2 separate regions of the Homo sapiens genome follow, and region 1 is linked to region 2. A link means that fine-mapping ties the variant in region 2 to the expression of a gene that starts in the linked region. Tissue or cell type: whole blood. Region 2 holds a variant in brackets; the other region holds the start of a gene. All regions are shown on one strand. Distances are from middle to middle. Region 1 holds the start of NOXRED1 (NADP dependent oxidoreductase domain containing 1). Region 2 overlaps SPTLC2 (serine palmitoyltransferase long chain base subunit 2).

Region 1 (5,381 bases), 130 kb before region 2:
CAATGGCTTTTCTTACCCCTGTAAATGCAGCTGTTCTTGGATTTGTACCTCTCCAGGGCACTACAATTTCTTAAGTGCTTGCTGGAGGTTTCATAAAGGCTTTTTGGACCATATATTGTTGTTAAGTTAGTGTCTCGAGGTTACAGAGTCTGGAGCTTCCTATTTCTTCATCTTACTGATACCAATCTGAGACAGATGTCAATTTTTATTGCTATTAGATGTGAGTGCATTCCTTTCCTACGATACACCCACTCTTTCTAGTTTGCTATTTCAAATCTGCAGACTTGAGAAACCAGATAACTTGGCTTTTTAAGAAGGTTATGACTTATACACATAAATGGTTTATAAAAACAAAACAGTGTTCATTCAGGGTACAACTTTAAACTACAAAAACAAAACAAAAAAGAACAGAACTGAGAAACTAAGGATGAAGATTTCAGACCACTATTTCCAGAGGTTCACTTACTGTTGGTGCTGGATGTGTTTCCTTGGCGCAAGATTAACAAAGTCAGACTTCTGAATACATAAGGTATACTTTCGTTGCTATATGACAGCCTTATATTTGTTCTGTATTTCTGTAAAAACCAGTGTCTTAAAGCTCTGGATTTTGCTTCTAAGCAACATAAGTCACTCTCTATTTAAGCCTTCTCTCCTGGTTGAAAGAGCATTTTCTCTTAGTGCCTGATCCTTCCAAATATAAAATGCCACCTGCAAGTTTCATATATTGTTTTCTCCCAGTCATATTGAGTACCACCAATAGGTTTATGCATCCTTATCAGTAAGCCAGTCAGTAAATTCACTGAGAAGCCTGCCTCCTTGGACATGTGCTGTATCTATAAACATGTTCAATTCAAATTTGGTCCCACCATCTAGGAATTAATCTAACTTCAGAGAAAAACTAAGAAGTAGAGTGAGGAGGTGACATATGCTCCCAGAGTGACCTGGAGTTGCAGAATTCAGAAGCCTAATTATAGGTACCTGCTTCACACACATTTCCTATTTAAGTGTCTGAAGCCATATTGTAGAAAGATATCAGAATCAAGACTGGACTGACAGCTTTTCTGCAAATCAATATTCCTGGTTTCAAGGAAGTCACTGGCACAGGGCCTGTGAAGTCCCGGGTAGCTTCCTGTAAGGGAGCATTCCACTATTACCTCAGCCCCAAAAGAAAGAACTGATTCCATTTGCATTCCTTGCCAATAGATAAGGAATGGCTAGACATTAGCAACTGTGGAGGGCAAGCTGGTGGTCATGATGACTGAGTGAATGGATGAATAAATGATCATTTAATCAATCCATCCACTAAAAGGTAATCACTACTAATCCATGCTTTATTATGTAACCACAGCCAGGGGACCCTGGTATAGATTTTCCTGTCCTTTTAGACCAGGAGTCATTGACTCTGGGTTGGAAAAGATAGGATGACAATCCACCAGCCAAACTTACCCTCCAATATAAAAAAAATTTAAGACATTTGAATTCTCAGCAGTGAGATTCTTGTCCATCTTCCTGAATTTGGATACTCGGCTTACCTCAAATTATATAATAGTTTGCAGAAGAAGGTTGCATGGGCACAAGCCTCGATCATCAGTCCCCGAGAACGGCCCTGCAAATACAGCCAGATACGATCTTCCTCTGGAACCCCATACTCAAACTGCAGGGACTCAAGGTCCTGGAGCATGTCCATTTCCAAGCCACTATTTCCTGCAGTGATAGACACTAATCAATTTGGCTCCCTGTCCCGGTAGAAGAGGGGTCTATGTAGGAGGTGTGTGTATGATGGTGTGTGTGCCCAGGTCACAAGCACTCATGATGATGGGCTTCAGCACCTCTCTACTCCCAGATTCTGAATTTGGAATTCACCTCTCTTGAATTCACACTCTAGAGTGTGAGTGTTTGAGGATTCCTAATCACTGGCTGCCCATGAATCCTGGACTCATGAAAAACCTGTACAGAAACCCAAAGTATTGTTTCTCCACACAGGTTACAGGCACTGTTTTCGGCAGATGAATTTACAACAGCAATTGAGTTTTACAGGTATTCTTGGGCCAGGACGTTTTCCCTTCCATTCCCTCCTGCGTTTTGGAAATAGGACTGAACACATAGAACCACATTTCAAAGAAATGCTTCCCTTTCACTAAACTCTGTTCTCCACAGGGTACAAAATAACCCAAACTAAATATCATTGTCCCCTGTCTAGGGCAGGGACATCTAGATTTTACAAACTAAACTCAAAGTCATATAAACCCATCTACATATATCTATCACCAAACAGAGAAGATTGGCTCTGCTCCTCAGTACTTCTGATCCTGGAAGGTAAGAACTACATTTCTAAGGAGAATTACCAAGAAACTTGTGATTATGACTCCTTAACTACCAGATTACAGTCTCTAAGTCTTAAAGAGGCCAGCCCCACTTAGAGGTTTTCCTGAGCTGCGTATCAGGACATGAGTTCCTTCCACTATTTCTAGGAGTACTACACTAGAGCAGTATGAGACCCTCCTTTTCCCAACAGAAGATTCTGGATTTCTAGGGGTTTTTTTTGCAGACTAGAATATCTTACAGATCTTAGCACTACTTGAGTTAGTTTACAACTCCTTCTTTTTGTGTTCAAGAAACCAATAAAATTTTTTCAGGTGAAATCCACATAACATAAAATTAGCCATTTTAAAGTGAACAATTCATCAGTACATTCAGAATGTTGTGCCACCACCTCTATCTTGTTGCAAAATACTTTCATATTCCCAAAAGGAACGCCTACACCCATTAAGCAGTTACTCCCTATCCCTCCCCACCCTCAGCCTCTGGAACCACCAATCTGCTTTCTGTCTGAATGGATTTACCTATTCCAGATATTTTATATAAATGGAATCATACAATATGTGACCTTTTGTGTCTGGCTTCTCTAATCCCTTTTATAGGAAGGCTGTTATATGACGACACCATCTCTTTAAAAGCAAAGTCTCACCCTGGCGTGGTGGCTCACGCCTGTAATCGCAGCACTTTGGGAGGCCGAGGCAGGCGGATCGCTTGAGGTCAGGAGTTTGACCAGCCTGACTAACACGGTGAAACCCCATCTCTACTAAAAAGCTGGGCATGGTGGCAGCTACTTATTAGCTGGGTGTGGTGGCACGTCTGTAATCTCAGCTACTCAGGAGGCTGAGGCAGGAGAATTGCTTGAACCTGGGAGATGGACGTTGGTTGCAGTGAGCTGAGATTGCGCCATTGTACTCCAGCCTGGGCGGCAGAGGGAGACTCCATCTCAAAAAAATAAAAAATAAAATAAAGTAAAAGCAAAGTCTCTGCACTTGAAATGAGGGGCATGGACGTTCTCATCAAACCTAAGAAACATTTTCTTACACCAAAACAGTCAGTAGGTCATCCTAATGTTGCCAAGTAATGCTTCCTGCTCCGAAGGAAAAAGAAGCTCAAAACCTAGATTAGCATGACCAATGCAGCATACAAGTTGTACAGACATGAATTCTAGGCCTATCCTTTACTTATGCATTCTCAAAAGTGGGGATCAGTTGTTATATTTTGTATTATGTCACCTTGGCTAGGCTGAACTGCAATTTCCAGAATGTCCTTCCCTGTATGTTTCCAGTTAAGGTGGACCACCAGAGATATTTCTATGCAAGATCAGGAGGGTGGAAATGAACAGTAACCAGTCTGTGTTTCAGTGTGCATAATCAGGGGAAGTACTTTTGTAGTTCACACATGTTGTTGTTTATCTGCTGAGTACCTTGTTGGTGAGGGGCAACAGTTGGGCCTGTAACTGCTACATCTTCCCTGGTTCCTTCTTCAGTTGCTCACTCCTGGGCCAGGTGTTTTTCATTTCCATGACAAAGGCCACTAGCTTTTCCAGCAGCGGGACACCCACCTCATCAAGGTTTGAGGCTGTGAGAACTGACATGGGTCCCAGTCCCTTCTCATGGTTTCTAGCTTGTCCCTGCTCACTCACTTTATAATGATCTTCCCTTCTTCACGGCCTTCCCTATGGATTTCAAGCTCTACCACTGGACATGAAGACAACTACGTTAAACACACCCTCCAGCTGCCATACTTGAGTGGAAGTACTCAAACAGAAAAGACAGGCTCTACTCCTCGGTACTTCTCATCCAATTTCTCTAAACAGGTCAGAGAAAGGTCAAAATTCTCTAACAAACAGCAGATATAGATTAGATTAGATTAGATTAGATAATGCATATATATGCCTAGTGGTTCTGCTTCTCTAAATGAACCCTAACCAATATACTAGTTAATAAAGTAACCACTGTTTGTTTGAAGATGAACCAATAATTTTAGTACAATCTAGCAAATTAAACTCTTGTTTCTTCAATAGCAAGAAGGATGATCAAGAAAGGAACTAAATATGAGGTTACCTGGAATTGCAAAGTGGAGGAGCAAAAGATGGAGTCTGATCCCCTTAAAGCAGTTTCTCAACACTGGTGTTGCTAACATGTGGGCAGGATAATCCTTTGTTGTGGGGCTGTCCTGTGGATTGTAGGGCGTTTAGCAGCGTCCCTGACCTCTACCCACTGGATGCCAGTAGCACGCCTAGTGTGGCAACAGAAAGCAACTTCGAACATTGCCAAATGTCTCTTGAGGGGCAAAACTGCCTCCAGTTGAGAGCCATATTGCCTTAAGGCATGGCATGTGCCTCTGTAGGAGCATCTTCTCTTTGCCTTCTATGACTTCACCCACTCCACAGTCACAGGAGCACAGAACTCTACAAAATGTTAGCTGGGTGTGGTGGCACGTGCCTGTAGTCCCAGCTACTCAGGAGGCTGAAGCAGGAAGATTGCTTGAGTCTGGGATGTCAAGGCTGCAGTGAGCCATGACGGTGCCGCTGCACTCCAGCCTGGGTGACAGACCATGTCTATTTAAAAAAACAGGCCGGGTGCGGTGGCTCATGCCTATAATCCCAGCACTTTGGGAGGCCAAGGCAGGCGGATCAACTGAGGTCAGGAGTTTGAGACCAGCCTGGCCAACATGGCGAAACCCTGTCTCTACTAAAAATACAAAAATTAGCTGGGCGTGGTGGCAGGTGCCTGTAATCCCAGCTACTTGGGAGGCTGAGGCAGGAGAATCATCTGAACCTGGGAGGTGGAGGTTGCAGTGAGCTGAGAGCGCCACTGCACTCCAGCCTGGGCGACAGAGCGAGACACCATCTCACAAACAAACAAACTCTACAAAATTTTAGATTATCTAATGAATCCAGAGAAAGAAAGGGACTCACCCAGCATCACATAACTATTTAGTGGTAGAGCTGGAAAAAGTCAGGTCTTGTGTCTCCCAGCACCGTGCTGTTTCTGTTAACCACACAGCCCTGCTTTGCCATAGCACTGTTACTCTATAACCTGACATGTGCCGACAGGCTG
Region 2 (5,363 bases):
GGGCGCCAATGCTGTGAGCCTCATCCAGATACAAGTATGCCTTGTATTTCTTCTTGAGGGCAATCACTTCAGGAAGACGAACAATAGATCCCTCCATGCTGGCAAAACATGAAAAAATATATATATACACATATACACTGAGACTTTTTAAATCAAAATTGGGAGTTTGGCACTTCATTATTATTGAGTTTACTGCTTCTTTTTTTTTTCTTGGGACAGAGTTTTGCTCCATTGTCCAGGCTGAAGTGCAGTGGCATAATCTCGGCTTACTACAATCCCTGACTCCTGGGTTCAAGCGATTCTTGTGCCTCAGCCTCCCAAGTAGCTGGGACTAGAGGTGCCCGCCACCACCACGCCCAGATAATGTTTGTATTTTTAGTAGAGATAGGGTTTCCTCATGTTTCCCAGGCTAGTCTCGAACTCCTGGCCTCAAGTGATACACCCGCCTTGGCCTCCCACAGTTCTGGGGTTACAGGAATAAGCCACCCTGCCCGGCTGAGTTTATTGGGTTTTAAATGGTCTGACAACTGTATCTGTGGCTTAAACTGACAAAGGTAGATGAAGCCATGGCAAGGCAAAAGACTAGGGGAAAGAAAACTGGACTTTTAAAACAAGCACTGGCTGGGCGCGGTGGCTCACACCTGTAATCCCAGCACTTTGGTGGGCTGAGGTAGGCGGATCACTTGAGGTCAGGAGTTCGAGACCAGCCCGGCCAACACAGTGAAACCCCGTCTCTACTAAAAATACAAAAATTAGCTGGGCTTGGTGGCACACACCTGTAATCCCAGCTACTCGGGAGGCTAAGGCAGGAGAACCGGGAAGCGGAGGTTGCAGTGAGCCGACATCCCGCCACTGCACTCCAGCCTGGGTGACACAGCGAGATTCCATCTTAAAAAAAAAGCCACCCAAACCACCAAAAAACAAAAAACAAGCACCAAACACAAGCAATCTTAATTCACGACAAAAATAATTAAGGTCACAGCAGATTCTTCTAAAGCTTGTAATTACAGGCAACATGAGACTTTGCATCACGTTGCACAGGCAATTAAAATGACACAAAAGAACAAAAAAAATTAGGTGGTAAAAATACGTGTAAAAGCTGTAAAGGTTAACCAAAATAAAATATTTCTTTTTAATTTTTATTTATTTTTTACAGAGACAGGGTCTCACTATGTTGCCCAAGCTGGTCTCAAATTCCTGGCCTCGAGCGACCTCCCACTTTTGCCTCCCAAAGTGTTGGGATTACAGGCGTGAGCCACTGCACTCAGCCTAAAATAAAATATTTATTAAAATTAAATGGTGTGTAATTTGTTTTGACATATTAAAATATATATTCCAATTCTTGCCCCTACATATAGGTTCCCTCTACAAACTAGAAAAATAAAAGACTCAAATAGAAAGGGGATTTGGTGACCATGTAGTATTATGGAAAGAATAACGAAGAACTAGACAAAAAGACTTCTGTTCTAATGCTGACTCTGTTTCCAGGTATTTTAGCGACTTATAAACACTGTCTCCTTAGTTTCCAGAGGGGGATAGACTAATGTTCCCTTCAGTTAAAAAATTCTATGACTTCATGGGGCCAAGTCACAAAGGTAAGAATAATAAAGCAGGATTACCTATATATTCCTTCCACAAGGATGAGAATTTTCTTCCAGGGCCTTCGTGTCCGAGGCTGACCATAAACAATGGCATCTTTCAATAGCTTCTCTAGGCTTTGCATATCTACAGAGCACAAAAAAGAACAGTTATACCGCATCTTCCTCTTTCCTAACTTTATTCCGGAAATGCAGAGATATATTTCTCATTCAGAAACCATGCCTCAGATAGCAAAGGACATAATTAGAGTTGGGCAGAAAAAAGCAGGGCAAAATAGGTGAATTATTGCCACCTTGAATTGAAATCCAAAATGTAACAAATGTTCAAAACCATCGAAACTTGACTAAAGGACGGTGGTGGCTAACTCAGTTCATTAGCTTCCTTATAAAATGACCAGTGTCTCATGTTAAATACCCTGCCATTAAGTTAGCTTCTGTGTGTTTATCGAAAAATACAGAATCAAACTGTATCTCTAATCCCAGTGAGTCATTCGGAAATAAATGCGTAAAAAAGACAGAGCGAGAGAGTGTGAATAAACCATCACAGACACATACTCCTCCTAAAAAAACAAACGCAAGGCGTAAAAAAACTTCACAGTGCGTGCTCCATTTCCTTTCACCCAGGACGTACTCAATAAACGCTTGTTAAAGAGTTTTATTTTGGTACTGGGTTAAAAATACACCCGTCTGGGGCATGTATAAGTCTGTGTGTTAAGCAAGCCTGACAATCAGTTGAAATTGTTCCATGTTTGACTTCATCAGTTGTCCATAAACAACCAAGTTCTTGTGGCTCTGTTGGTTCTTATGGTGGTTAATGGGCCTGGAAACAACTTGGCTGCTACTGCCATTAATGATGATCATAATTTCCTTGTTAAAGACAAATGCTTTGAAGACCATTGTTGCCACACTACAGATTTCATACTTAAAATACCTGCCCTGAAATGAAGTCCTTAAAAAAAACTCCCCCAAATTTAAGCAACATTAAGTCTGGGGAATACTTAATAGGGGTGGGAGACATCCTATCATAAAATCTTTTTTTTTTTTTTGAGATGGAGTCTCCCTCTGTCATCCAAGCTGGAGTGCAA[T/C]GGTGTGATCTCTCCTCACTGAGGCCTCCACCTCCAAGGTTCAAGCAATTCTCCTGCCTCAGCCTCCCAAGTAGCTCGGATTACCAGCACCCGCCATCACGCCAGGCTAATTTTGTACTTTTGTAGAGACGGGGTTTCACCATGTTGGCCAGGCTTGTCTTGAACTTCTGACCTCAGGTGATCCGCCTGCCTCGGCCTCCCAAAGTGCTGGGATTACAGGCGTGAGCACCACGCCTGGCCCTATCATAAAATCTGATTTTGTATTCTGTATTGCTTGTAACTGGAGGAAGGAGTTATAAAAGTACATGATTTTGCTCTTTGCAGAAAACAATTTTGACAGAAAAAGAGATAAGGTAATAAAAACACAGAACACAAACACAAATAAGATAGTCTAAGGTTGTGACTGTGCTTACACATTCAGTAATTTCTAAGAAAAAAATCTGCATACGACCTAATCAAGATTCAGGAGATGTTCCCTACAGAAGTAAATTACGTCCTGACTCAAAGCCTCCAGTTTTTTTGTTTTTTTTTTTTTGAGACAGAGTCTTGCTCTGTCGCCAAGGCAGGAGTGCAGTGGCGTGATCTCTGCTCACTGAAACCTCCGCCTCCTGGATTCAAGTGATTCTCCAGCCTCAGCCTCCTGAGTAGCTGGGATTACAGGTGCATGCCACCACATCCAGCTAATTTTTGTATTTTTAGTAGAGGTGGGGTTTCACCATTTTGGCCAGGCTGGTCTTGAACTCCTGACCTCAGGTGATCTGCCCTCCTTGGCCTCCCCAAGTCCTGCAAAGCCTCCAGTTCTTAGGCAGAGAGCAATGTATGGCGATCAGCTGAAGACAAGTAAAAACACAGGAATTATTTTAGTTTTCTCTGTTTATATATAGAAGGAGGAGAAAAATAATACTGGTCAAAATTTTAGATAAAAGAAGCATCAGCCAGGTGTGGTGGCTCACGCCTGTAATCTTAGCACTTTGGGAGACCGAGGCGGGTGAATCGCTTAAGGTCAGGAGTTCGAGACCAGACTGACCAACATGGCAAAACCCTGTCTCTACTAAAAATACAAAAAAAATTAGCCGGTTGTGGTGGTGGGCACCTGTAATTCCAGCTACTTGGGAGGCTGAGACATGAGAATCGCTTAAACCCAGGAGACGGAGGTTGCAGTGAGCCAAGATCACGCCACTGCCCTCCAGCCTGGGTGACAGAGCAAGACTGTTTCAAAAAAAAGAAATACCTATAGCAGAATGCTTAACCATATTATCTACTTAGAAAAAAAAATTCAATCTCTCCAATGTTATGCCCCCAAATTCCACATAAATTTAAATAAAAAATATATCGCAAAACTCCCAGAAGAAAACATGAAAGAATAACATTATGATCTGAGAATGAGGAGGGTATTGTGTAAAATCCGAAAGTCGTAAAACAGTAAGTGTGGCAACAAAAACATTTTCATGAGTCTGTACAGGAAGACACTGAAAACAAAGTCAAAAATATAAAAATAGTGCAGTCTGGGCATGGTGAATCACTCCTGTAATCCCAGCATTTTGGGAGGCTGAGACAGCAGGATCGTTTCAGCCTAAGAGTTCAAGACCAACCTGGGCAACACAGCGAGACTTTGTCTCTATAAAAAATAAAAAACACTAGTCCGGCATGGTGGTGGATGCCTACAGTCCTAGCTACTCAGGAGACTGAGGCAGGAGAATCATTTGAACCTAGGAGGTCAAGGCTGTGGTGAGTTGTGGTTCTGCTACTTCACTCCAGCCTGGGTGATGCAGCAAGACCCTGTCTCAAAAAAATAATAATAAAATAATGCAACATAAAGGAAAAGATAATTAATATAAAGGGCTCTTATAATCAGTAAAAAATAGAAACAATTTGAAAATGGCCAATTTATAAAGAAATACAAACACATTAGCTTACAAGTAGAGTTAAAAAAACAGTAAAAATGCAAAAAGTTGTTCTATATCTAATAAGCAATGAAATAAAAACTAACATATTATTTCCTCATTAGATTTGGAAAGATTTAAAATGATTCACCATAGCCTATGTTGGCCAGTGAGTAGGAACAGTCAATCTCATGTTGTTGAGGAAAAATTCATACAAGATGCAAGCATGTGTATGTTCATTGTAGCACTATTCACAACAGCAAAGACATAGGATCAATCTAAATGTCCATCAACAGTAGACTGGATTAAAAAAATGTGGGCCAGGCGTGGTGGCTTATGCCTATAATCCCAGTACTGGGAGGCCAAGGTGGGTGGATTGCTTGAGCCCAGGAGTTCAAGACCAGCCTGGGCAACATGGTGAAACCCCATCTTTACAAAAAATACAAAAAGAAAACACAAAAAACAAAAAACAAAAAACTTGGCCGGGCGTGGTGGAACACATCTGTAGTCCCAGCTACTAGGGTGGCTGAGATGGGAGGATCGGTTGAGCTGGGGAGGTAGAGGTTGCAGTGAGCTGAGTTCATGCCAATGCATGCCAGCCTGGGAGACAGAGCAAGACTCTGTCTCAAAAATAAAAATAAAAATATATATATATATATGTACATATACACCATGGAATACTATGTAGCCATAAGAAAGAATGAGATCATGTCCTTTGCAGCAACATGGATGCAGCTAGAAGCCATTACCCTAAGCAAACTAATACAGGAACAGAAAACCAAATACCACATATTCTC

The links. PIP is the estimated chance that this variant, and not a neighbour inherited with it, causes the effect.
Region 1: it holds the start of NOXRED1, and the variant in region 2 is the best candidate, but not a certain one, in a credible set for the expression of NOXRED1 in whole blood (INTERVAL, PIP 0.72).

What each region holds. Positions count from the first base shown.
Region 1 is chr14:77,421,203-77,426,583 of GRCh38, forward strand. It overlaps NOXRED1 (NADP dependent oxidoreductase domain containing 1), which reads right to left and starts at 2,321. Exons shown (of 6, transcript NM_001113475.3): 1 at 1,533-2,321. The coding sequence starts at 1,687.
Region 2 is chr14:77,555,422-77,560,784 of GRCh38, forward strand. SPTLC2 (serine palmitoyltransferase long chain base subunit 2) reads right to left here. Exons shown (of 12, transcript NM_004863.4): 7 at 1,620-1,725; 8 at 1-98. Among named protein-coding and RNA genes, the nearest start is that of SPTLC2, 59 kb to the right of the region's middle. The variant T/C (reference allele first, on the strand shown) is at 2,684.